4 separate regions of the Homo sapiens genome follow, and all the other regions are linked to region 4. The links come from fine-mapping of genetic effects on gene expression. A gene starts in region 4. Each other region holds a variant in brackets. All regions are shown on one strand. Distances are between the middles of the regions. Region 1 overlaps BMP1 (bone morphogenetic protein 1). Region 2 overlaps PHYHIP (phytanoyl-CoA 2-hydroxylase interacting protein). Region 3 overlaps PIWIL2 (piwi like RNA-mediated gene silencing 2). Region 4 holds the start of BMP1 (bone morphogenetic protein 1).

Region 1 (6,158 bases), 44 kb after region 4:
TCCCAGCAAGAAGGAGTGCACGTGGGCCATCTCCAGCACCCCCGGGCACCGGGTCAAGCTGGTAAGGGGTCCCCTCCCCACTCCTTATGCGGTGTGGCTGCCCCCGGTCAGAGGCACTGCCCAGAGCCACACAGGCTGCAGGCTGAGCCCAGAGGTCTGCCATCCCCAGGAGACCCCAAGTCTGGCCTGGACAGAGGCCCCTTTCCCAGTATAAATTAGGGGCGTCCCTGCCTTCGCCCTATTCCTGGGCCCTCCTTCACTGTCATCCCCAGCTGTGGCTGCTCCCATGGGTATCTGTGAGGCCTAGGTTTGGGGCCCTCATCCTTGCCCCACCTGCCTTCCAGCCAAATTTTTAATCTGTGCTCCTTCCTCATCCCCCTAGACCTTCATGGAGATGGACATCGAGTCCCAGCCTGAGTGTGCCTACGACCACCTAGAGGTGTTCGACGGGCGAGACGCCAAGGCCCCCGTCCTCGGCCGCTTCTGTGGGAGCAAGAAGCCCGAGCCCGTCCTGGCCACAGGCAGCCGCATGTTCCTGCGCTTCTACTCAGATAACTCGGTCCAGCGAAAGGGCTTCCAGGCCTCCCACGCCACAGGTACTGTCCCCGGTTGTGGGAGTGTTCACTGAGCCTGGTCTCCAAGACTGGGGTAGAGTCGGGGGTTTCAATGCGGGTATGAAGGTACAGAGGGACTGAGCCCTGCGACCCAGGGCCAGGGTTGTGGGTGATGCAAACATTGTGTCCTGAGAACCAGGCCTGGGGGGCAGGGATAGGAGGGTGTGGTTAGGGGTTAGGATGGCAGTGATGACGATGGACAGGAGAGGTGAGGGAACTCAGGGACAGAGAGGAAAGCCCCCAGAGGTCCCCCTGAGCGTACGCGGGCCACCGCAGCAGCCCAGCCACACACCAACCCTGAAATATACTCTATTCATTCTCTGATATTTATTTTTTTATTTTTATTTTTATTTATTTTTTATTTTTTGAGATGGAGTCTTGCTCTGTCGCCCAGGCTGGAGTGCAGTGGTTCGATCTTGGTTCACTGCAACCTCCACTTCCTGGGTTCAAGCGATTCCCCTGCCTCAGCCTCCCGTGTAGCTGGGATTACAGGAGCCTGCCACCATGCCCAGCTAATTTTTGTATTTTTAGTAGAGACAGGGTTTCGCCATGTTGGCCAGGCCAGTCTCAAACTCCTGACCTCAGGTGATCCGCCCGCCTTGGCCTCCCAAAGTGCTGAGATTACAGGCGTGAGCCACCGTGCCCAGCCCATTCTCCTGATACTTATTGACATGTAACATGGATGAGGCGGCATCCTAAATGCAGGTCCCAGAAACAGACCAAGCAAAGATCCCAGCCCTTGAGGGGCTTGCTCGGCTTTCACTTGCTTGTTTATTTAGCAGCCATGAACTGAGCTCCGCTCTGCGAGAGGACTAAGGGGCACGTGGCCTGAATCAGGCATGAGCCCTTCACTCCTGCCCCCCACCCCATACTAGGAACTCGCAGTCCAGGAGAGAGACAAGGCAGGCACCGCCCGTGACAGCATGAGCCCAAGCGGGAGCCAGGCAGGAAGAAAGGCACCCCGGCCTAACTGGGCATGTGTTGGTAGAGGCATTCGAGGCAGGGGGAGGTGCCCAGGCAGAGACACAACCCCAGCCCAGCCCAGAGTGTGCCCAGGTGACAGCAGGTCATTTACTTTGGCCGAAGCAATGGGTGTGTGAGGACAGCAGGTTGTGGGAATGATGTGGCTGCAGAGAAAGGCTGGAGTCCAGGGGGATGCCTTGAGTGCCAGACCAAGGATGCCACGAGGGAGCTTTGCAGTCTCCTCCTGGGTCCTAAGCCACCTGTCAGGGCATCCCCAGAGCTGATGGTCCACAGCCTCCCCTCTTCCCCTTCAACTCAGTCCCTGACCCAGCCCCGTCCTTCCCTCTCCCCACCTCCTCTAGCGAGACCTGAGTGCCAGGTGCACAAAAGCCAGAGGGCCTGGGGAGGAGGGTGGCCCCATGCACTGTCCTCTGCCCTTCCCAGCACAGGGTCACAAACCGGAGGCCCGGAACTCCATCTGGCCCTCAGACCTGCTATGTTTGGCCCACACTGTGTTTTTTTTAAAAATGTGAGCCAACACTTAAAAGTTAGGAGTTTTCACATAAAACCCAGATGTACGGCTTCTCTCTTGAAAATGGAAGCTGTGGCGACACTGGGCCCACATTCTTCCATGACAGCCATCAGCTGGAGAAAATGAGCAATGCCCTCTTTAGACAAAGTGTGTGGTGCCTCGTGCCACCGCTCCATGCTGTCTTCCTCTCGGTGAGCCTCACTGCCTGTTCCCCTCAGCCTAGGGCCAAGGTCCCTCTATTTAGAGATGGGGCAGCACAGCAATGTTCTGGGCCAGGCCCCCACCCACCCATCACTGGCCTCGTGGCCTTCACCCAGGCCTCCATCCTGCCGTGAGGGCACGCCATGGCATAGTGTGCCATGGGGCCTGGCACCTGCGGTGCTCAGGGCTGGTTGGCCCCTCTTGTCCCCTACAGAGTGCGGGGGCCAGGTACGGGCAGACGTGAAGACCAAGGACCTTTACTCCCACGCCCAGTTTGGCGACAACAACTACCCTGGGGGTGTGGACTGTGAGTGGGTCATTGTGGCCGAGGAAGGCTACGGCGTGGAGCTCGTGTTCCAGACCTTTGAGGTGGAGGAGGAGACCGACTGCGGCTATGACTACATGGAGCTCTTCGACGGCTACGACAGCACAGCCCCCAGGCTGGGGCGCTACTGTGGCTCAGGGGTGAGGCCCCCACCCCTCGCCCTCCTGGCCCCATGCCCCACGCCCCACACTGTCCTCCACCCTTCTCAGCCCAGTCTCCAAGACCTAGCGCCCACACAGGCCCCGGAAGTTGAGTGCAGCACGCGTGTGGCCCTGTGTGGGAGCCCAGAAGCCCAGCCTTGTTGGGGCTACTCAGAGACACTGCCCCATCCCCGACGTAGGAAACCAAGTCCTTTCTGGGCAACCTAGAAGTTCCTGCGGCCTCTGACCCAGGCCTGCCTCAGAACCAGTTGGCCACGGCCTGGAGCGGATGGAGCTTCCTCTGTCCCTCCTTTCCTTACCCCTCCCCCAAGGCAGCCCACCAGGGCCTGGAATGGGGGGCAGAGGTTGGCACCAGAGCCGGGGACAGGGCGCCTGAGCGGAGTGGCCCTCACCAGTCCTTTTGCCGGAGGCATAAACACTCTTGTCATTTCCTCTACCAGTTTCTCCTCCTGATGAAAGGCCAGCTTGTCCCAAAGCTCTTGCTGCTGCTGTCCCAGTGGCCCCTGGGCACTGCTTCTTGGTCCATAAAATGGCACGTTAAGAG[T/G]CAATGAGCAAAAGTAGGCTTGATGGGCTTTTCCCTAAGGACATGGGCTAGCCTCGTGGGGAGGATTTATTTTCCTCCCTGTAAGAGCTTGCAGCTGCCTCTTCTTCTTTTTTTTTTTTTTTTTTTGTCCTTTCCTGAGGGCTTCAAAGAGACAGACTGTCTTCCTACCCATCTCTCTCTCTTTCCCTCTCTCTCTCTCTCTCTCTCTCACACACATACACACACACTGGCACACCCACTTGCATGCACTTTCAAATACACTGGCCCTCCTGTCACCTCCCTGTCCCCTTGCCTATCTCATGGCTGTATCCCAGGCAGCCTGGGTGCCCCAGGAAGGGTTAAAGCTCCTGGAAGCTGCAGCAGCTGCTGGACCCAGCATTGGCTGAACCTCCCCCAGGAGCAGAGCTTCAGCCCTCGTGTGGCTGGCAGGGGCTGGGACAAGGTGGAGCCTGAAGCAGCTTGGCTGCCCTGGTGTCCCCTGGCTGCCAGGCTAGTGTCCCCTCCCCTCTTTGCTCTTTCTTCTGAATCACACACCAAATCGGATGTCCCCAGGTGTCTTCTTCCAGAGACCTCCCCCAGGCTGAGTTGACCGGAAGGAACTTGGGGAAGGATCAGGGCCTCCTGGCACAACTACTCGGAATGTCCTCAAGGTTCTCAGAAATGATTTCTTCTGTGCCTGGAAGGCCAGGGCGTTGACGTCCGATGCTCTGAGGGCTGACCTCACTCAGTAGGCTTGCAGGAGGCACCTAAGAAGGGCTCGGGAGCAGACCTTGGCCAGGTGCCAGAGGAGAGGCGGGGCAAGGGGTAGGGATGGCAGAGTCCAGGCCTGGGGGGCACTGTGCTTCTCTCCAAAACTTCCTCCACACTCCAGCAGAGAAGTGGCTGTGCCGTCTTCCCTAAGAGTCCACTGGGACAGCAGGAAGTGATGCCATTCAAAGAACTCCCTCCCTTTGCAAAATACTTTGACATCGGTGCAGTCCTTTGTTTTTCCCCAGCACCCCTCCTAGGCATGGAGAGCAGAGACCTTTTGCTCCTGTTTGTGGCTGAGGGAAGTGAGGCCCAGAGATGGGAGGTGGCTTGCCTGAGACTACACAACTCATTTAGTAGTTATAGCAGAGCTGGGTTTACGGGAACTTAGTTCTCTTCGGCCCACGCCTCCTCCCCTCCCCAGGTTCCTCATTAAACCAGCAAGAAGCCCTATGCTTCAAGGGGCGGGGAGAATCTGGTGGCTGCCTGGGAGCCTCCTGCCCTTCAAAGCTGGGGATCTTGGGGAGGCAGGACAGCAGCCCCAGCCCCTCTTCCTCCACCTTACCCCATCTCTTTTCTCTGCCAGCCTCCTGAGGAGGTGTACTCGGCGGGAGATTCTGTCCTGGTGAAGTTCCACTCGGATGACACCATCACCAAAAAAGGTTTCCACCTGCGATACACCAGCACCAAGTTCCAGGACACACTCCACAGCAGGAAGTGACCACTGCCTGAGCAGGGGCGGGGACTGGAGCCTGCTGCCCTTGGTCGCCTAGACTGGATAGTGGGGGTGGGCGGAAGGCAACGCACCATCCCTCTCCCCCAGGCCCCAGGACCTGCAGGGCCAATGGCCTGGTGAGACTGTCCATAGGAGGTGGGGGAACTGGACTCCGGCATAAGCCACTTCCCCACAAACCCCCACCAGCAAGGGGCTGGGGCCAGGGAGCAGAGCTTCCACAAGACATTTCGAAGTCATCATTCCTCTCTTAGGGGGCCCTGCCTGGTGGCAAGAGGGAATGTCAGCAGGACCCCATCGCCATCCCTGTGTCTCTACACGCTGTATTGTGTATCACCGGGGGCATTATTTTCATTGTAATGTTCATTTCCCACCCCTGCTCCAGCCTCGATTTGGTTTTATTTTGAGCCCCCATTCCACCACCCCAGTTTCCTGGGGCACAAGTGTCTGTGCATGTCCCCCAGGAGCCACCGTGGGGAGCCGATGGGGAGGGGATGGAGAAACAAGACAGGGCTTCTCTCAGGCCCAGTGGCCGGTCAGCCACACCAGGGCACCGCAGCCAATAAACCGAAAGTGTTACAGCCAATATCCTGTGCCAGATGCTGTCTGGGCCATGGGGGCGGGGCCATCATGTTCCAGATGTATGGGCTTGCTGTGGAGGCTGGCACGTAGCCAGGGCACCTGGCATCACGGGCTGCCCTTCCCTCCCCTGATCCCAGGCTGCCAAGGGTGTAATTTCACACTCAGGCACAGATACTCGCAGGCACCCATCACAGCGCGCACACACACCACACGCACTGCTCGCGGTCCTCCCACATGAGGGGAGGGGTGGAACATTCCATAAAGTGGCTGTTTGGTGGGGAGGGAAGAAGGATGTGAAAGGGGTCAGGGGTGTCTGTCCGTCTGGGTTTTCTGTCTCTGCATCTAGGGAAGGAGTAGGTGGGCTGCAAGGGTGTCCACCTAGGTGAGCACACGGGGGCCAGAAAACCCACATCGGCTGGGACAGGTCCAGTTGGCCCCTGGTGCCTGTCTTCCTGCCGGTCAGATGCTGAGTGCTGGTCCCCATGGATCCCCCTGTCTTCGTGGAGACAAGAGCCAGAACTCAGCGGCCACTGAGCAAACATCCCAGCTCTGGCCCCACTTCCCAGGTGACCCAAATCTATGTCTTGTCTGGCCTCCTTCTTCCTGCCATCGCACACCCCGCTTCCCCATCCCAGACCTGTACCTCCCAGAGGCCAGGAGGAGAAACCACATCTCAGTTCCCTCTCTCCCCTCTCTCTACATGGATCTCAAAAGGAAAGAAAGCCCAGGGCAGCCCCGGCTCTTACGCCCGGGCTG
Region 2 (6,158 bases), 63 kb after region 4:
GGAGAAAAAAAAGAAAAAGCACCACTCAAAAGACAACAGCAGCTCAAGGAGACTTGGGGCATAAATCTTGGCAAAGGATAGAGCCAGCAGCCTCAGAGGCCCGGGGCTGAGAATGTTCCGTGTCTCTTCTGTGTGACAGAGAGATCTGGAGCAGCTCTCACCGTGAACACCAAAAGAATGTAATCTTGTGGGGGCAGACCCTGAGTCGTGAGGGACCAAGCACACATAGGCCCACTGTTTGTTTGTGATGGAGTCTACAAGTTAAGTTCTGCTAAGAGAGTTTGCGGGGCCATTGACCAGGGGCCATTTTCCCAGGCTACGTGAAGGCTCAGAACAAGTGAAATGTGATTGCCTCACCAAGTGCACATTGACAAATAATTGATTAAGCAAAATGTGGTCTATCCATACAATGAAATACTATCCAGTTTCAAAAAGGAAGGAAATTTTGGTATATTCCAGTCACAAAAAGACAAATCCTATACAATTGTACTGATATGAGACACCTAGAGGAGTCATATTCATAGAAACAGAAAGTAGAATGGTAGCTAGCAGAGGGAAATGGGGGGCGGTTATTTAATGGGTATAGAGTTTTGGTTTTCCAGGAAGAAAGGTTCTGGAGACTGGCTGTACAACAATGTGAATATACTTAATACCACTGAACTGTACACTTCAAAATGGTCGAGACGGCAAATTTTACGTCATGCACCTTTGACCACAAGGTTTAAAAAGATGCCTGTGATCTGGTACCAAGCCCGAAAAGTAACTCCCTTTCTTAATGGAAGTGGTCTTGCCAGCGTGATTAGTGGGGTTCGCATTTGCCTCCAGTGAGAGAAGAGAAAGGTTGGGCTCCTGGAGGCAGGGAGGGTGTCATGCCCGTGCATCTCCCCTGTGGCCCAAGCACGCTGCCTGGTGGACAGAAGGTGTTCATCAGTGTTTGCTGGACTACGAGGAAGACCCGCCTTGACCACAGCAAAGCCCGACGTGCCAAGCAGCAGGACAGGGGTGTGATAGCAGGGCCTCACCCCCAGTGCAGAACTCCACCGTCTCGCTCCAGCCGGACACCAGGTACTCCCCATCGCTCTGCTTCACTGCCGTCTGCACGGCCACACTGTACTCCGTGCGGGGGCTCAGGAACCAGTGGCCTCTCACCGTCATGGGCAGCGGCACTGCCTTGGCCACGAGCTTGGTGGGGACGTCCTGAGAAACAGGGTACAAACAGAGAGCCAGGCGTCAAACAGGGGTTCATGCCCAATCTGGGCATCACCCCAGAATCCCCACTCCCCAGATGGCCCTGTTTCTCCTGAGCAGGACCAATCTTGAGGATCCAATGGCTCCATACCCTGGCCACCATTTTCCTGGGAAGGCCACCCAGACACTCCACAGCCTTGGCCCCTCCTCGAACCCCCCTGACACCCCGTTCTCTTGGGAACGGAGGGGAAAAGCCACAAAGTTGAGGACGGCAAGGCCTTCATTTTTTAAGGAGACTTTGAGAGCTCTGCACACTGCAGTGCCGTCTCCACGGCAACGGCAAATGCTGAGAAGCCAGGGAGGAAGGGAAAATATGCCTTATTCTTTGGGGGGGAGGGTTAAGGGGGTGGTGTTGAACATTCACGTCACCGTGGCAACTGGCCTGCCAAAAGACACCCAGATCGGGAGAGCCGGTTCCAGAGAAAGAGAGCGGGTGAGTAACCCACGCCGGTGCCGTCGGCCTGGGAGCCAGCTGGCCGCCTCACTCCCCCTGCCTCTGCCAGCTTGAGAGGATGGGGGTCTTCCTCCCACCCACCCCCACACTGGCTTTTAACCCCAGGAAAGGACACACCCACGGAGGACTCTCTCCCATTCCTTTTCTAAGTCAAGCAAATGGCAGGCCAGCAGGTGAGGGGCCCGAGAGGGAGAACTGAGGCCACAGCAAAAGGGCTCCGCCCCGACCGAGGCCCGTGTGGCCCACCCAGCCAACAGCGAGGCTGTGCCCTGAGCCGGGGCTTTGTCGAGACTTGAGACGTCATCCCCATAGGCGAAGCCTGCGGCCCCACCCTACCCGGGCTCTCTGCCCCTGCCTGAAGTCTCAGTTGTGGCGCTGATAACAACGCTCCCTCTGTGCTAGGCGCCGGGCCAAGCACCACGCAAACATGACTCACTGCATCCTCTCCACGACCCCGTGAGGCTTGGCATTGTTATTCCCTCTTTACCAGGGAAGGAGCTCAGGCTCAGAGAGGTCAAGTAACTTTCCCAAAATGACACAGGAAGAAGAGTGTGGATTTTAACCAGCCTCTGACTCCAAGCCATCACTTCCAGGTGTTCCCTTATCCGGCCTCCTTCAGGAACAGAAGCTGGGGAGGGGCTCCCAGGACACCTTCTACTCACCCGGTGCTTGAACTTGTTGGAATTCTTATTCTCCTTCTTGTTAAGGTCAATGAAGTAATGGGTGACCCTCTCCAGGTCACTGTCCTCCATGGCCCAGGAGATGCGGAAGGAGTCGCAGGTGATGTTGTTGATCTCAATGCTGTGGGGCGTGGACAGCAGCTCCATGCTCCCGTCAGGGTTGTCTCCTGTGGGGACTGAGGAGGAGGGAAAGGGTCAGTACATCCCTTGACCCCGGCGAGCTTTCTGGAATGTCCTCCTCCCAATATCCCTTTCGAGGCGGAACCTCAAGGACCCCTGGAATCCACATGCCTCATGAACCAGATGGGAAAGACTGTACAGGGGAGGCTGGAGAAGGATGATGGAGGGTGGAAAGGGGTGCCTGCCCGGGGGGCTCTTTGCTCTCCTCGGAGGGGTCTGCAGAGCAGACGGCACCTGACAGGTGGCAGAGGCAGTGGGAA[T/C]GCTGCAAAGCCGGGCGGGGACAGATTTGCAGCAGATGGAGCCGAGGAGGGAGGGGGCCCTCAGCCAGCAGGCGTGAAAAGAGAAAGGGGTGGGGGTGGAGAGGACGGGTGAGAGGCGGAGGAAACGCAGGAAGCACCTGCTGTGGAGCGGAGGTGCGAGGCTTGGGGCAGGTGACAGCCAAGAGCTCACAGGTGCCAGGGCCCTCGGATTCAGGCCTCTCTCCTCACTGGGGTCAGCAAGCGTTGCCGCGGTACATGGCTGGAAGGACAAGTGCCACGTTGGTGCATGTGGACACATTCGTGGTGGGAGGGGTACGCGGCACAGCCGGCTTCAAGCTCTTTTTCCACCCATAACTTTTTTTGATGATCCCTCTTTCTCTTTCGGCCAATCTTCTCTTGACTCCTTTCAATCATGACTTTTAACATTAACATCTATTAGGGGCCGGCCATGTGCTCATAATTTCACAGACGTCTCATGCAACCTTGGAAGTAGGCACACACTATCATTATCTCCATTTTACAGATGAGGCGACTGAGGTTGGGGAGGTACTAACATGCCCAAGGCCACGCAGAGAGCAAATGATTTGAACTCCGGCACCCAAGCTCTTGATCACTAAGCTAAGATAGTGTCCCCTCATGTGTGGGGGTGGAGGGGCACATGTGTGGCGTGTGTGCATGCATGGGTGCCCATGGTGTTTCCACCTGGCATTTTTCCTCCTTCCATCGTTTCCTTTCAAGCAACTGCATTTTCTCTCCCCTCCCTGTCTTACTCCTTTGGTTCTCCCCTTATGTCTGCTGCTCGTCCAGGTATGAGAGGACCTCATCACGGTCACTCTCATGTGTGCTTTAGCTGGGAAGAGCTGACTCTGGCCATGACTCTGGCCTGGCTGGCCTAGCTCCGGGATGGGGAAGAGCAAAGGGAAGGGGAGTGACAGCGTCTGGGAGGGGACAGCAGACGTGGGTGGGGCATTCTCCAGGGGCATTTGGTCTCCTGCTTTCCAATCCCTTCCTCCAGCCCAGTTCCTGGCACCCCTCATTTTTCTAAATGTCACCTCCTTCTCTTCTTTCTCCCCTCTTTTTCTCCTCCCCTTGCCCAGGAGCTAGTGGTGAGGGCATCTTGTGCCTGCAAAAGCAGGTACTTTTATTTATAGCTTCCAGAGGATCCAGCCCACACCTTCCTGTCAATTAAGCTTGCTCCAGAGCCTGGCACCTCTGTATTAACCTGTGAGTTGCCTGGATGGCAAGTACAGGGTGAAGGCTAAAGGTGATGGCCCTTACCTGCTCCAGGTGTCACTCAAGTCCTGTTTCATCTTAGCCTCCCACCCCACAGCCAAATGCCGGTGGCTTTGTGCATGGGGAATCCTATGGTAAATAAGCATGGCGGTGCTACCAGGCCCACCCCAAAATCAGGCAGATGGGATTGAGTGTCTGGAAACAACCCTACCATAATAAACCAGTTTGTAATTCATGGGGACAGGTGTGGAGCAGTGGGGAGTTACCATCTCTTGGGAACCTGGTGAGAAGCTCCCAGGGAGACACACATGTGCCCCTCACACACACACACGCACACACACACACGAACACAGACACACTCCTACCCAAGAGGCCCTGAGCGGCACCCACCCACACGCTCGGAGGCAGCCCACACTCGTCCCATGAGTAGGCACCTATTCCTGCCTCTCCTTGGAGTCCTCCTAGAAATAGGGGCAGCTGTGTTTGGCGGTAGGGGTCTCCAGGACCTGGGTGTCTGCTTGTCCCTCCCTCCCTACGGTTCTGGGAAAGCTGAGATGACATCCCCCCGCTAGCTTGGGAGGGTGGCAGTGAGTGAGCTGGGGTGGACAGAGGGGTGGGTGTGAACCCAAGTTCTCTACACCCAGAAGACTGGGGAAGGGCAGGGTGTGAGGGACAGGTTGAGGCAACACCCGAGAAACACCCACACTCCTGTGTGGATCCACCCCAAGACAGGCATGTACACACCCACACACAGGCAGGCACGCACGCGCATACACACATGCGCCAAGAGTGCCCACCCACCCGCGTCCCACACCTCCGCAGATGTCCTCACTCCCACACACCCATCTCCACATTCAGGTGCCTGCTGCCACCTTCCACATTCTAAGAATGCCCCACAGTTTTCCCTCTTCAATCTGTCACCTCCATGCACACCCAGACATGTTCATGTCCACAGGCTCACGCACACACACGTCCACGCACACCGCCTCACAAGCCATATGTGGGGAAAAGAGGATGCCACAGGCACCAACATGCATGTGTGCCACCTCCACAAGAAGGCACGCAACCCACACGCCTGCCGGCACACACATGTGTGTTCATACACACAGCAGCCCCCGCCCGAAGTCTGGTATTCTCTCTCGAATCATCTCCAGGCTCAAAGACAGACTTTGAAAATGTGTTTGCCTCTGGCCACACTCTGCCAGCCCTGAGCCTTCATGCCAACAGGTTTGTGCACCTACGTGGCTCTGCCCACAGACAATGGTTTCTGCCCCTTCTTCTCTTTACCCACTCCATCCTGCTCTGGGTCTCACCTCCCCATATAGAAAGCCCCTGTCTGCATACACTCCCACACACATGAAAAGGGACATGGTTACCCCTAAATATACTGCCTCATAGTGTCCCCACCCACGCACACCCACAGGCTACTCAAATAAGTCCCCCACACACATGTACCTCACGTGTGCCAGAAAGATATGTTTCTAGACATGCCTCACACCATTCAAAACCCACACATGAGCATGACTGCGGACAGACGGACCTATCTGCGCCAGCAAGCCTCCAGCCAACTCGCGAGCGCGCACACACACACGCCGCGCACACCGGTGCCCCTTCCCCATGCCCATTCAAACAGCCACCCTGCCACAGGGAATGCTTCCCCCACCCTGCTGTCCCTGTTGGCATCGCTGACTGCAGCAGAACGGTCACGGGGTGACTAACTGTGGTGCCCCAGAGACTGGATTCAGCCATTAACCACTTTGCCAAAGGCCTGGCCGGGGGGGGGGAGAGGGGACAAGGTCGTCAGGCCTGGCAGTCCAGGTGGGCACCCTGGGTGGTGGCAGGACCCTAGAGCCCCCAGATCCCGGCTACTCAGGATCAACAGCAGCAGGTTCCAGGGAGGAAGGGTACTCACCTGGCTCCACTGGGCTCTGCAGAGGAAAAGCTCGCAGGGAGGACAGGGAGAGACCTCTGCGTGGATGAGCTCCCCGGCAGGGGACAGCAGCCGGACGCCTGGGTCACGGGCAGTGGCGTGCGCTTGCTCCTCTCCCGGCTGCCAAGGAGGCTGCTTCCATGCCCCGCAGCCAGCTCCTGTCTGGCTGTGCA
Region 3 (5,000 bases), 120 kb after region 4:
GTCTCAAACTCCTGACCTCAAGTAATCCACCTGCCTCGGCCTCCCAAAGTGCTGGGATTACCGGCATGAGCCACCATGCCTGGCCAGAAACTTCTATACTATTTCTAAAGGTAGCTATACTAGGAAGGCTGAATTTGTGAAGGGCAGCTGCTAGTTGATGACACAAGAGGAAGAAGTGGAGTGAAAGAGAGGAGAAAGGAACAGTTAGGGAGAAAATATTCTGAAGGTATGTTATAAAGACCAAAGGAAGGACTCTTTTGAATGAAGGTAATGAGAAGGTGGTTGACTTTGGCCACAGGAAAAAAAGCAACTGAATTTGCTTGTTGAGGGTGTTGTGATCTTCTAGCAGTTTTGTTACAGTTGTAGAGAAAAAAAAGGAAAGATGAAAAGCACAAAGGAGGGCATAGGCCATGAGAAGTAGCCACTGACTTGGCCACTCATTTAAAAAGTTTATAAGAGGAATGAGAAATGGAATAATTATAGAAGGCAACAGGATTGCTGTAATAGTTTCTATGAGGTAAGAAAGCGGAGCTGAGCACATACAACAGGTAGAGGGAAGTAGCCAGAAAAGTGGGGGAAATTGGATCCCAGGAAACAGGCTTGTTGTGAAACATACAGCAAAGAGGTGAGCATTAAACAGAGGGGAGAGGGCTGCATGCAGTGGCTCACGTCTGTAATCCCAGCACTTAGGGAGGCCGAGGAGGGAGAGTTGCTTGAGGCTAGGAGTTCCAGACTGTCTTAGGTAACAACAACAAAAAATTTTATTTATTTATTTATTTTGAGACAGAGTCTCACTCTGTTGCGCAGGCCGGAGTGCAGTGGCACAGTCTTGCCTCAGTGCTACCTCCATCTCCCAGGCTGAAATGATTCTCATGCCTCAGCCTCCCGAGTAACTGGGATTACAACCACATGCCACCACACCCCACTAATTTTTTTGTATTTTTAGTAGAACAGGGTTTCACCGTGATGGCCAGAGTGATCTTGAACTCCTGGCCTCAAGTGATCACCCACCTCGGCCTCCCAAAGTGCTGGGATTACAGGCATGAGCCACCGAGCCAGGGCAAAAAAAAATTTTTTTTTAGTCAGGTGTGGTGGTACCCTTATAGTCCCAGTTACTTGGGGGACTGAGGCAGAAGGATCACTTGAGCCCAGGAGTTTGAGATGGCAGTGAGCTATGATCATGCCAGTGTACTTCAGCCTGGGTGACAAAGGAAGACCCTATCTCAAAAAAAAAAAGGGAGATGGGGAGAAGTCTTCCTCTTAAAATGGAGTGACAAATGTTAAGGAAACAAAGGGAGAGTCACTTGAACTTGGGAGGTGGAGATTGCAGTGAGCTGAGATGGCTTCACTGCACTCCAGCCTGGGCGGCAGAGCGAGACTCCGTCTCAAAAACAAATGTGTATATATGAAAGAATATACACTGACGTGCTAAGGCAGGTGTCCTTTGGTGGTAGGATTTGGTGGTTTTTATTTTTTTATGACCTATGGTTTCTGATGTTTCAGCTGCGAGCAGGTCTTCTTGAGTCAAAGTTCTAGGCAGATAGATAATTTTTAATATGCCCGCTAGATGGAGCAGCAGTTACTGGGTAACTAGCACCTGTTGCACAGCTCTGGTAAAGATTGCAGTTTGAGTCAAGTTAAAGGAAAATCCTCTTCATTATTTTCCAGCCCCAATGTGGAGTGCAAAAGCATGAGGTTCGGCATGTTGAAGGACCATCAAGCTGTCACCGGCAACGTCACTGCGTTTGATGGATCTATTCTCTATCTGCCTGTTAAGCTTCAACAAGTGAGACCAAACAGGAAATGGACTTTGAGATGAACCCTAAGAGTGCTCTGGCGTTTTTTGTTTGGTTTTGCTTTTAAGAGATTGGGTCTTGCTATGTTGCCCAGACTGGTCTCGAATTCCCAAAGCCCTGGGACTACAGGCGTGTGAGCCACTTCACCTGGCCCAGGACTGGTGTTTTGAGGGGTAGGAAACCATAGAATTCCTGTATGTTCGAGTTGTGCTTTTCTGTTCATAGAGGGGAAGACAGATTTCTGCAGGACATCACAGCACATTTTAGGTTTGAATTCCTCAAGAAGCACCTTCTCACATGAGAGGAATGGTTGGAAGTCTGTGACCTCAGTGATAAAGAGTAACTTAAAATTGCAAATGTAGGCCGGGTGCGGTGGCTCACGCCTGTAATCCTAGTACTTTGGGAGGCTAAGTCAGGTGGATCACGAGGTCACGAGATTGAGACCATCCTGGCTAACACGGTGAAACCCTGTCTCTACTAAAAATAAAAAAAATTAGCTGGGCATGGTGGCAGGCGCCTGTAGTCCCAGCTACTCAGGAGGCTGAGGCAGGAGAATGGC[G/A]TCAACCCAGGAGGCGGAGCCTGCAGTGAGCCGAGATCACGCCACTGCACTCCAGCCTGGGTGACAGAGCGAGACTCTGTCTCCAAAAAAAAAAAAAAAAAAAATTGCAAATGTAAACTTGGTTGGAATTCTCTTACCAAATCATTTTTCTGAATCGTAGTTGTCATGCTGTGCTTTTGCTAGTGTGGGCAACAAAGTGAGGGGAAAAGTAGAAAAATGTTTTAAGATACTTTAGTGTTCTTAAGAACACAGTTGAATTAGATTAGGACTTGGTCATTAGTTCTTAGTTTTGTCATTTTGTTTCACCTGTGTGTATTTATTTGTTAGGTTCTTGAGTTAAAAAGTCAAAGGAAAACAGACAGTGCTGAAATCAGCATTAAGATTCAGATGACAAAGATCCTGGAGCCCTGCTCTGACCTGTGCATTCCCTTCTACAATGTTGTTTTCCGTCGGTAAGAAAACAGCTGAAGTTCTATTGTCCTGTAACTTCAGTCTTGTATTTACAGTAATGTTCTTCAAGATACTTGGATGGAAATACGTGACAGTATATTCTAGATGGGTTTGGAAGCATTTAATGAATAAATGGATGGTATTGAGGCTAACTTACTCAAAAATTATCTCACAAGTGGTAGACCAGATTTGAATATATGAAATTAGGTTTGGAGGTAGCTGGATAGGGGAACGGGTTCCTCCAGTTGTGTTCAGGAACTTTGAAAGCGGCTGTTGATAGTGCATATTTAATGGTGACGGTAACAAGGGGGCTACTTAAAGAGGTTGTGTGTAAAAATATTTGCTGGAAGGATTTTTCAGTGTCTTGAATTTTTGGATTACAGACAGCTCATAATTGTTTAACTTCTTTTGAAACATCCTAGTTTTCATACAGCCGCTATTCTCTTATTTAATGAAACACAACCTAATTTCTTTTCTTTTCTTTTTTCTTTTTTTTTTTTTTTTTGAGAGACGGAGTCTCGCTCTGTCGCCAGGCTGTAGTGCAGTGGCGCAATCCCGGCTCACTGCAACCTCCGACTCCCTGGTTCAAGTGATTGTCCTGCCTCAGTCTCCTGAGTAGCTGGGATTACAGGCATGCGCTGCCACGTCTGGCTAATTTTTGTATTTTTAATAGAGATGATGTTTCATCTTGTTGGCCAGGATGGTCTCGATCTTTTGACCTCGTGATCTGTCCACCTCAGCCTCCCAAAGTGCTGGGATTAGAGGCGTAAGCCACCGCGCCCGGCCCATGGAACCTAATTTCTACCTAGTAAGTTGAACTGCCAGGAGTAAACATAGCTCCCTTTGCCACACTGTTATTCACACACTTAGCAATGGGCTGTCTTGCATTCTTCGTAGTTAGTGGTGAAAAGTAACGTAATAAAACCTTGGAAACCAACTCAGTGTTTGGTCAGCTAGTAAGTGGAAAAGACTGCTGTCATTTTGCTTTGCTTTTTCAGTCAAATGCTTTGGCAGTTTTTGGTTTTCTTTTAACAAGATTGTTCTCAATATAAAAGCTGTCTTCTGCAAAGAGCACAAACATTTCTAACCGTTCAGACTTCCAAAGGCAAATGTAGCTAAGAATAATGGAACATAATTTTATTACTCTTCTATTAGAAAACTCATACTTGCTTTTTATTTCAGGGTAATGAAACTTTTAGATATGAAGCTTGTGGGGAGAAACTTTTATGACCCTACAAGTGCTATGGTACTACAGCAACACAGGTTGGTACTTTTTTCCCTTCCCTCACTTTTGAATGTTCTGGAAAGAAAGTTTCCATTACAACCATTGTATTTAGTACTATAATGTCAGCAGTAGTTTATGGTAGTGAATACAGTTTATCAATTAAATCTCTTCCTTAGTTTGGTTTTTCAGTAAGTTTGCAATAATGTCAATTAACTTAGTTTCTTGAGGCTTTCTCATTACTATTAGGGAAGGGCAGTATCACCTCAATGTTTTGTTCACATGGGGGCATGGAAGTATATGTGTTCTTTGAAAATCCTACAGTTGAGACCACCTCTCTCTCCAGATTGCAGATCTGGCCAGGCTATGCAGCTAGCATCCGAAGGACAGATGGAGGGCTCTTCCTGCTAGCTGATGTCTCCCATAAGGTCATTCGGAATGACTGTGTGCTGGATGTCATGTGAGTGAATGGTGGGGTCTATCTTTAACATGCTGATGATTTTCTGAAAAGTTCAGTAACAGCTGGTAATAACACACATTAGACATTGTTCTGTTTGTTTGTTTTTTCCCCCAGAGACAGGGTCTTGTTTTGTCACCCTGGCTGGAGTACAGTGGTTTGATCATAGCTCGCTGTAACCCTGAACTCCTGGGTTCAAGTGATCCTACCACCTCAGCCTTCTGAGTAGCCAGGACTACGGGTGTGCTACCATGCCCAGCCAATTTTTAATTTTTTTTTTTTTTTTTTTTTGTAGAGATAGGGTCTTGCTATGTTTCCCAGCCTGCTATGTTTCCTGGCTTCAAGGGATCCTCCTACCTCAGCCTCTCAAGGTGTTGAGATTATAGGCATGAGTCATGGCACCCAGCCCTGTTTAGATTTTTAGTTGTAGAATAACTGAACTGAATATATGTGCCCTCGTCTCTAGTCCTCCTGAGATAAGCATCTGAATAGACATCTGCTGTGCTTTGAGAAGGA
Region 4 (6,065 bases):
TCTTGGGAAAGAGGGAAGCGCATTTGAGTACAGAGGCCTGAGTATGGGGATGGGTACCACTGGCTGAGTAGGAAAGGGGAAGACCAGGTGGCTCCATGCCCTTTCCCCAGGTTCTGGAGATGAGCATTGGGGCGCCGGAAGCCCAGCAACGCCTGGCCCTGAGTGAGCACCTGGTTACCACTGCCACCTTCTCCATCGGCTCCACTGGCCTCGTGGTGTATGACTACCAGCAGGTGGGTATGCCCAGACCTCCTGACCCTGGGACCAATGACAAGGCTCTGCTAGAGCCACCCAGCTGGGCCACTTCATCCACATCCATCTCTCCCTCTCCTCCAGACCTTTTTTGCCTGAGCCCCAGATTCTAGTATGACTCCCGTGCCCAACCTAGAGGGAGGTGGCTAAGGACCTGGGTCAGGGAGAGAGCAGGGCAGGGACCCCCGAATGATCTCCAGCATTCTGTGCCTAGCTGCTGATCGCCTACAAGCCAGCCCCTGGCACCTGCTGCTACATCATGAAGATAGCTCCAGAGAGCATCCCCAGTCTTGAGGCTCTCACTAGAAAAGTCCACAACTTCCAGGTGTGTGTGTGTGGGTGAAAAGAGTGGGCTGTCTCCCTCCCAGGGCTGCTGGGAGGAGTGTCCGAATGGTGGCTATTTGTCACCTGTAAAGCACTGTTCCTCATTGGCTGCCAGCTGACTGCCCCTCTCCTATTCCCCTGCACGACTCCTTTCCTTCCCACCCCACTGCCAAGCTGCTGGGCTCAGCTGAGTCCACTCACTACCTGGTGGCTTCTGACTCTAGCACAGCCCCTCTTTACTGATGAGAAAACTGAGGCTCAGAGAGATTGCCTGATATACCTGAAGTCCCACAATAAGGGCTGCACATGGGATAGAAACTCACTTCCTACATTCCAGATGGAATGCTCTCTGCAGGCCAAGCCCGCAGTGCCTACGTCTAAGCTGGGCCAGGCAGAGGGGCGAGATGCAGGCTCAGCACCCTCCGGAGGGGACCCGGCCTTCCTGGGCATGGCCGTGAGCACCCTGTGTGGCGAGGTGCCGCTCTACTACATCTAGGACGCCTCCGGTGAGCAGGTGTGATCCCAGGGCCCCTGATCAGCAGCGGAGGAGCGCTCGGGCCACCTGCCCGGGCTGTGGAGGAGCGCTCGCGCTGACCAGGCGCTGGGGCGTCCACTGAAGCGGGGTCATCCAGGCAACTCGGGGGAGGGGAAGCTCACAGACCGGTACTTCCCACTCCCCTGATTCTCTCTGTCCATCCTCAACATTCCTTTGCTTCACAGGGTCAGTGGAAGCCCCAACGGGAAAGGAAACGCCCCGGGCAAAGGGTCTTTTGCAGCTTTTGCAGACGGGCAAGAAGCTGCTTCTGCCCACACCGCAGGGACAAGCCCTGGAGAAATGGGAGCTTGGGGAGAGGATGGGAGTGGGCAGAGGTGGCGCCCAGGGGCCCGGGAACTCCTGCCACAACAGAATAAAGCAGCCTGATTGAAAAGCAAAGGGTCTGCTTCTGTCTTCCTGCAGGGCGCAGTCCTGCCCTGGCGGGGGCCGGCCAAGAAGGGAAGGGCCTTGGGAGAGCAAAGTGGGGTTTGCCATTCGCCCTCTGTCCCAGGGCGCTGGGGCACTGGGTCCACCTCGGCGGGGGAGAGGGGCTCGCAGGGAGCCATCCACGGGCTTTCGGCGCCCTCCAGCGGCGTCTCCGGAGGAGGGAGAGACACCAAGACAGCGAGAGAGACAGAGCGCAGAGAGCGAGACGCGAGAGAGCGAGGGTCCAAGAAGGGGAGATAGGGAGACGCGGGCGGAGAGACCGACCCGAGGCGGGGGCGCGGGGCAGGGGCGGCGCGAGGACCTGACAGCGTGTCCCGCGGCGGGGCGGGGGCTCGGCCGCGCGCCCGCGGGGGAGGCCGCCGCTAGAGGGCACTTCAGGAGGGACAGCCCTCCCGGCACCCCGGGGCCCGAGCTCCAGCCCCGGCCTCGCGGCCCGCGGCCCGCGGCCCGGGCGGCCCGAGCCCCCTCCCCGGGCGCGCGGCTCTCCGCCTTCCCCGCCCCGGCTGGCGCGCGGCCCGGCCCGGCCGAGCACTGTCCCGGCCCCGAGGGGGGCAGAGCTCGGGCGAAAACCCGCCCTCCAGCGAGCTCATTTCCCTAAAAAGGGGGGGGGGAGTCGGAGGGAGGGAGGGAGGGAGAGAAAGAAAGAGAGAAAAAGAAGGAAAGGGAGAGGGAGACGGCTGGAGCCCGAGGACGAGCGCGGAGCCGCGGACCGAGCGGGGGGCGGGAGACAGGAAGGAGGGAGGCGAGCAGAGGGAAGGGGAAGAGGTCGGGGAGCGAGGGCGGGAGCGGTCGCGGTCGCGATCGAGCAAGCAAGCGGGCGAGAGGACGCCCTCCCCTGGCCTCCAGTGCGCCGCTTCCCTCGCCGCCGCCCCGCCAGCATGCCCGGCGTGGCCCGCCTGCCGCTGCTGCTCGGGCTGCTGCTGCTCCCGCGTCCCGGCCGGCCGCTGGACTTGGCCGACTACACCTATGACCTGGCGGAGGAGGACGACTCGGAGCCCCTCAACTACAAAGACCCCTGCAAGGCGGGTGAGCGCCCCCCGGCCCCCCGGCGACGGGCCAGGCGGGGAGGCGCGGGCGGGTTCGGGCTTGGGGTTGGGGGAGGACAGTCCAGTGTGGGAAGCCGGGAGCTGCCTGGTTGGCAATGCAGTGGGGAACAAAAGAACGAGGGGGAGAGGGAGGGGGATTTGGGGGACTTTTCGGACTGAAGTTTTGCCGCTGTTGGTGGAAGCTGCTGCCGCTGCCTCTCATCTTCCCAGAGGATTCCAGAGGAAGTCTCCTTGCGTCCCGGGAAAACCGGCGGGCAAGGCGGCTTTTCCTTCTGTAGGAAACTTTTCTGGCCAAACTCCTGTGCGTGCGTGTGTGTGTGTGTGTGTGTGTGTGTGTGTGTGTGTGTGTGTGTTCTTTCCCCTTCTCCCCCATCTCTCCTGCTCCAGGAGCTGGGTGTTTTCCAGCCTGTCTGGGCTGCCCTGGGGCTGCACATCTGTCTGGCTTGGATCTGGGAGGCCTGAGTCTCCAAGGAGCAGGTCCCCCAGCCACCACCCAGCCCAAGTGGAAGAAGAAAGTTTTTCCAGGGATTCCCTGAGATCGTGCTCTCTGGGTATCCCGTAGTTTAACCAGTAGCTGAAGCTTTCTGGGACTTAGGAGACAGCTGTCAAAGTCAGAGAAGCCAACCCAGAAGGGGGACTTAACTTTGTCCCTATGTGCCCAGAGACCCCCGCCAAGGCCAAGTTGGGGTGGAAAGAGGGAAAATACAAAGAGAACCCAGATATTGTATATCAGCTCTGTCACCCCCGAGACACCAGAGGCTAATTAGCTGAGGTCAGGACCCCGGAGTGTGTGTTTGCCTGTATGTGTGTGTGTTCTTTGTCTCTGAAGACTCTATGTAACCCCATCACTCCTGCTGAGCCCAGAAGGGTCCTGCCCCTGGAGTGACCAGATGGCCAGGCACTCGGGCCATTTGCCTGATTGGATGACCCTGGGCAGGCTGTTTGGGGACACACAGGGACAAGATATCAGAACTTTTCCTTGACTTCCTGCCTCTCTGACTTCAGCTCATCTCCAAATAGCCAGAGCCAGGGGAAGTGGCATAGTTGCTAGAACTGGACTGCCTGTGTGGGGCACCAGGGGCGGAGGGGCAGGTTGCTCTAGTCCTGGCTCTGGAGACCCTGTTCAGGGACTCTCCTGGGAGGGTGGCCCACAGGCAGGAATAAGAGACCATCCAATGGAGGAAATCAGGGCAAATCCCTCAGCCCTTACCCCTCTACACCTGCTGGGCTGCGGGTAAACCAGGACATTTGCTGTCATTTTTCTCGCTGGGGGCTGGGAGTGGGTACAGGGCAGAGTGGACTGCGCATGGACTTTGAAGGCAGGCACATCTAGCTTTCAATCCTGACCCTGCTACTCATTATAGCTGTACCACCTCAGAATGGTAATGATCATGTCTGAACTGCCACTTTCACACCTGTAAAATGGAACTGATCATGCATCTTCCCATAGAGTTGGTGGTAAGGGTTAAATATGAAAACATACATAAAACACTTAATAGTGCTTAACACACAGTCAGCGCTAAATAAATGTGGGCTCCCTACTCCCTGTTTTCTGTGCCTCAGACTGTCACTTCATTTTTTTGAGAGGTGTGGGATTGCTGGTGTCTCCTTGTGCCTCTTATCCATCAATCCATCAATACCTAATATGTGCTAGGGCCTGGAATGGATGTTGTGGGAGGTACTGAGACGTACAAGCTAGGACCCTGCCTTCAAGGAGCTTACAGTCCAGTAGGGACCCAAGACACCTACAGACATAACCAATAGCACAAACCAAGCCACACTGAGTGCCACATTGGAGGGTAGGATGCCAAAGACTCAGGGAGTTTCCTGCCCCTCTGCAGCCTGGTGGTGGCAGAGAAAAGTGATCACAGCAGGCTGAGAAGGTCTGGGGGGGTCTTCATGGAGGAGGTGGGGCTGGGGCCTGGCCTTAAAGAATGGGTGGGAAGCCATTCTGATGTCTTTCCCTTCTTGTTGGAAATGGGAGTGATTTTCAGAGCAGCAAGAGGCTGAGGGCTCTCCCCCCAGTCTCAGGTTTCATGCTAGGGTGGGGCTGGCTGAGTTGGAGCTTCAAGTAAGGGCTCTGGAGAAAGCACTCCAACTGGGTGAAGTGAGGCTGGTGGGGCGCTGGGCCAGGGCTGGGGGCGGCTGAGAGGGCCCCCGGGCCTGACAAGGCCAGGCCTTGGGTCAGATCAGGCCTCCCTCTCGGGTGTGACTGATGCTTGAGATCTGCTGCCCACCTCCAGAGGAAACTCACATGGGCATTCCTAAGTACTCACACCCACACCCCTGTGCCACTGCCTTCCAGCCACAGGTCCCTCAGCTCTGTTCTCCACGTTTCCTTCTCCTGCCTGGCTTTGCTTCCTGTATCCTCTGCAGCCCTGACCTCCAGATGCTGGAGGTGATGATGGCAGGCATGCTGTCTCTGCTTCTTTTCAAGGGCTGGAACTGAAAGCTCCTTTGACTCCCACAGCTTACCTGTGACCTTTCCAGTTGCTCTGAGGGTAGCCACGCCCCTTCGTTGGACCATTACTGGCCGAGTTATGGTTGCCGTTGTAGTGAGGGCAAAATTAATATCCTTGATACCCTGGAGAGGTTCCTGGACCTTCTGGGTGAGACCAGGACGTTGGGCAGGAAGGCAGGCTGGTCTGTTTGTGTGCTCAGAGCTGGTGCCACCAAGCCCTCACTAGCCCTTGCCCAGGAAGATTTTGAGGCAGGCCTGATTTCCTGTATGTCAGGAAATCAGCCAAACCATGAAGGGGGTCCTTCTGCAAGATTCCCAGCACTGTTTGGCTGCCCCAGGTGACTAGCCAACACCCCCCCGGAGAGACCTTGGAGGCAGGAATTGGGACACAGTTGATCCCAAAATCAGAGAAGCCCAGGGGCCTGACCCCACAGGGGTGGGGCTAGAAGCATGTCACACCCAGAGCTGGGTAGTGACCCTGTGCCAGTGAGGCCCCTGCTACCACCTCAACCTCATCTGACAGCCCAGAGTCTGCAGGAGCGGGAGGGGCAGCACTTACCAGCCCACATCCCCATCCCACCCAGGGGGACGCCTGGCCAAGGTTTGGACATCAGAGAGCCATAGAGGATTAGGGTACACCCTCTGAGGTCGAGAAGTAATCTCTCCTCTCACCAGACCACATTCCCCCTCTAGACAGCTGAGTCACCCCACCCACCCAGGCCCCTGCCCCTGAGTCACCTTCTTATTTCAGTGCCGCAAGGGGTGAGGAAAAAATTTGTACTCTCCCTGGGCCCTACATGGGGCAGGGCGGGGCAGTGGGGTTCCCCAGGAAGAAGGGATTCTTAAGAAGTCTAGGCAGGGGGCAGTGGCTCATGCCTGTAATCCACTTTGGGAGGCTAAAGTGGGAGGATCACTTGAAGCCAGGAGTTTAAGACTAGCCTGGGCAACACAGCAAGATGCCCATCTCTACAAAAAAATTTAAAAATTAGCTGGGCATGGT

The links. PIP is the estimated chance that this variant, and not a neighbour inherited with it, causes the effect.
Region 1: its variant is fine-mapped to the expression of BMP1 in whole blood (TOPMed, PIP 0.96).
Region 2: its variant is fine-mapped to the expression of BMP1 in cerebellar hemisphere (GTEx, PIP above 0.99).
Region 3: its variant is fine-mapped to the expression of BMP1 in whole blood (INTERVAL, PIP above 0.99).

Annotation. Positions count from the first base shown.
Region 1 is chr8:22,206,921-22,213,078 of GRCh38, forward strand. It overlaps BMP1 (bone morphogenetic protein 1), which reads left to right. Exons shown (of 20, transcript NM_006129.5): 17 at 1-61; 18 at 383-596; 19 at 2,525-2,775; 20 at 4,674-5,406. The coding sequence ends at 4,808. Among named protein-coding and RNA genes, the nearest start is that of PHYHIP, 22 kb to the right of the region's middle. RefSeq lists enhancers at 3,243-3,934, 3,935-4,625, 4,626-5,317. The variant T/G (reference allele first, on the strand shown) is at 3,341.
Region 2 is chr8:22,225,829-22,231,986 of GRCh38, forward strand. It overlaps PHYHIP (phytanoyl-CoA 2-hydroxylase interacting protein), which reads right to left. Exons shown (of 5, transcript NM_014759.5): 1 at 5,968-6,158; 2 at 2,365-2,558; 3 at 1,023-1,197. The coding sequence starts at 2,529. Among named protein-coding and RNA genes, the nearest start is that of PHYHIP, 3.2 kb to the right of the region's middle. RefSeq lists enhancers at 1,286-1,993, 1,545-2,744, 1,994-2,701, 4,806-4,975, 5,901-6,158. The variant T/C (reference allele first, on the strand shown) is at 2,823.
Region 3 is chr8:22,285,860-22,290,859 of GRCh38, forward strand. It overlaps PIWIL2 (piwi like RNA-mediated gene silencing 2), which reads left to right. Exons shown (of 23, transcript NM_018068.5): 7 at 1,669-1,786; 8 at 2,683-2,807; 9 at 3,988-4,068; 10 at 4,374-4,487. Among named protein-coding and RNA genes, the nearest start is that of PIWIL2, 13 kb to the left of the region's middle. The variant G/A (reference allele first, on the strand shown) is at 2,356.
Region 4 is chr8:22,162,970-22,169,034 of GRCh38, forward strand. It overlaps BMP1 (bone morphogenetic protein 1), which reads left to right and starts at 2,403. Exons shown (of 20, transcript NM_006129.5): 1 at 2,403-2,584. The coding sequence starts at 2,437. SFTPC (surfactant protein C) reads left to right here. Exons shown (of 6, transcript NM_001317778.2): 3 at 111-233; 4 at 467-577; 5 at 932-1,090; 6 at 1,297-1,510. The coding sequence ends at 1,072. RefSeq lists a silencer at 1,659-2,698.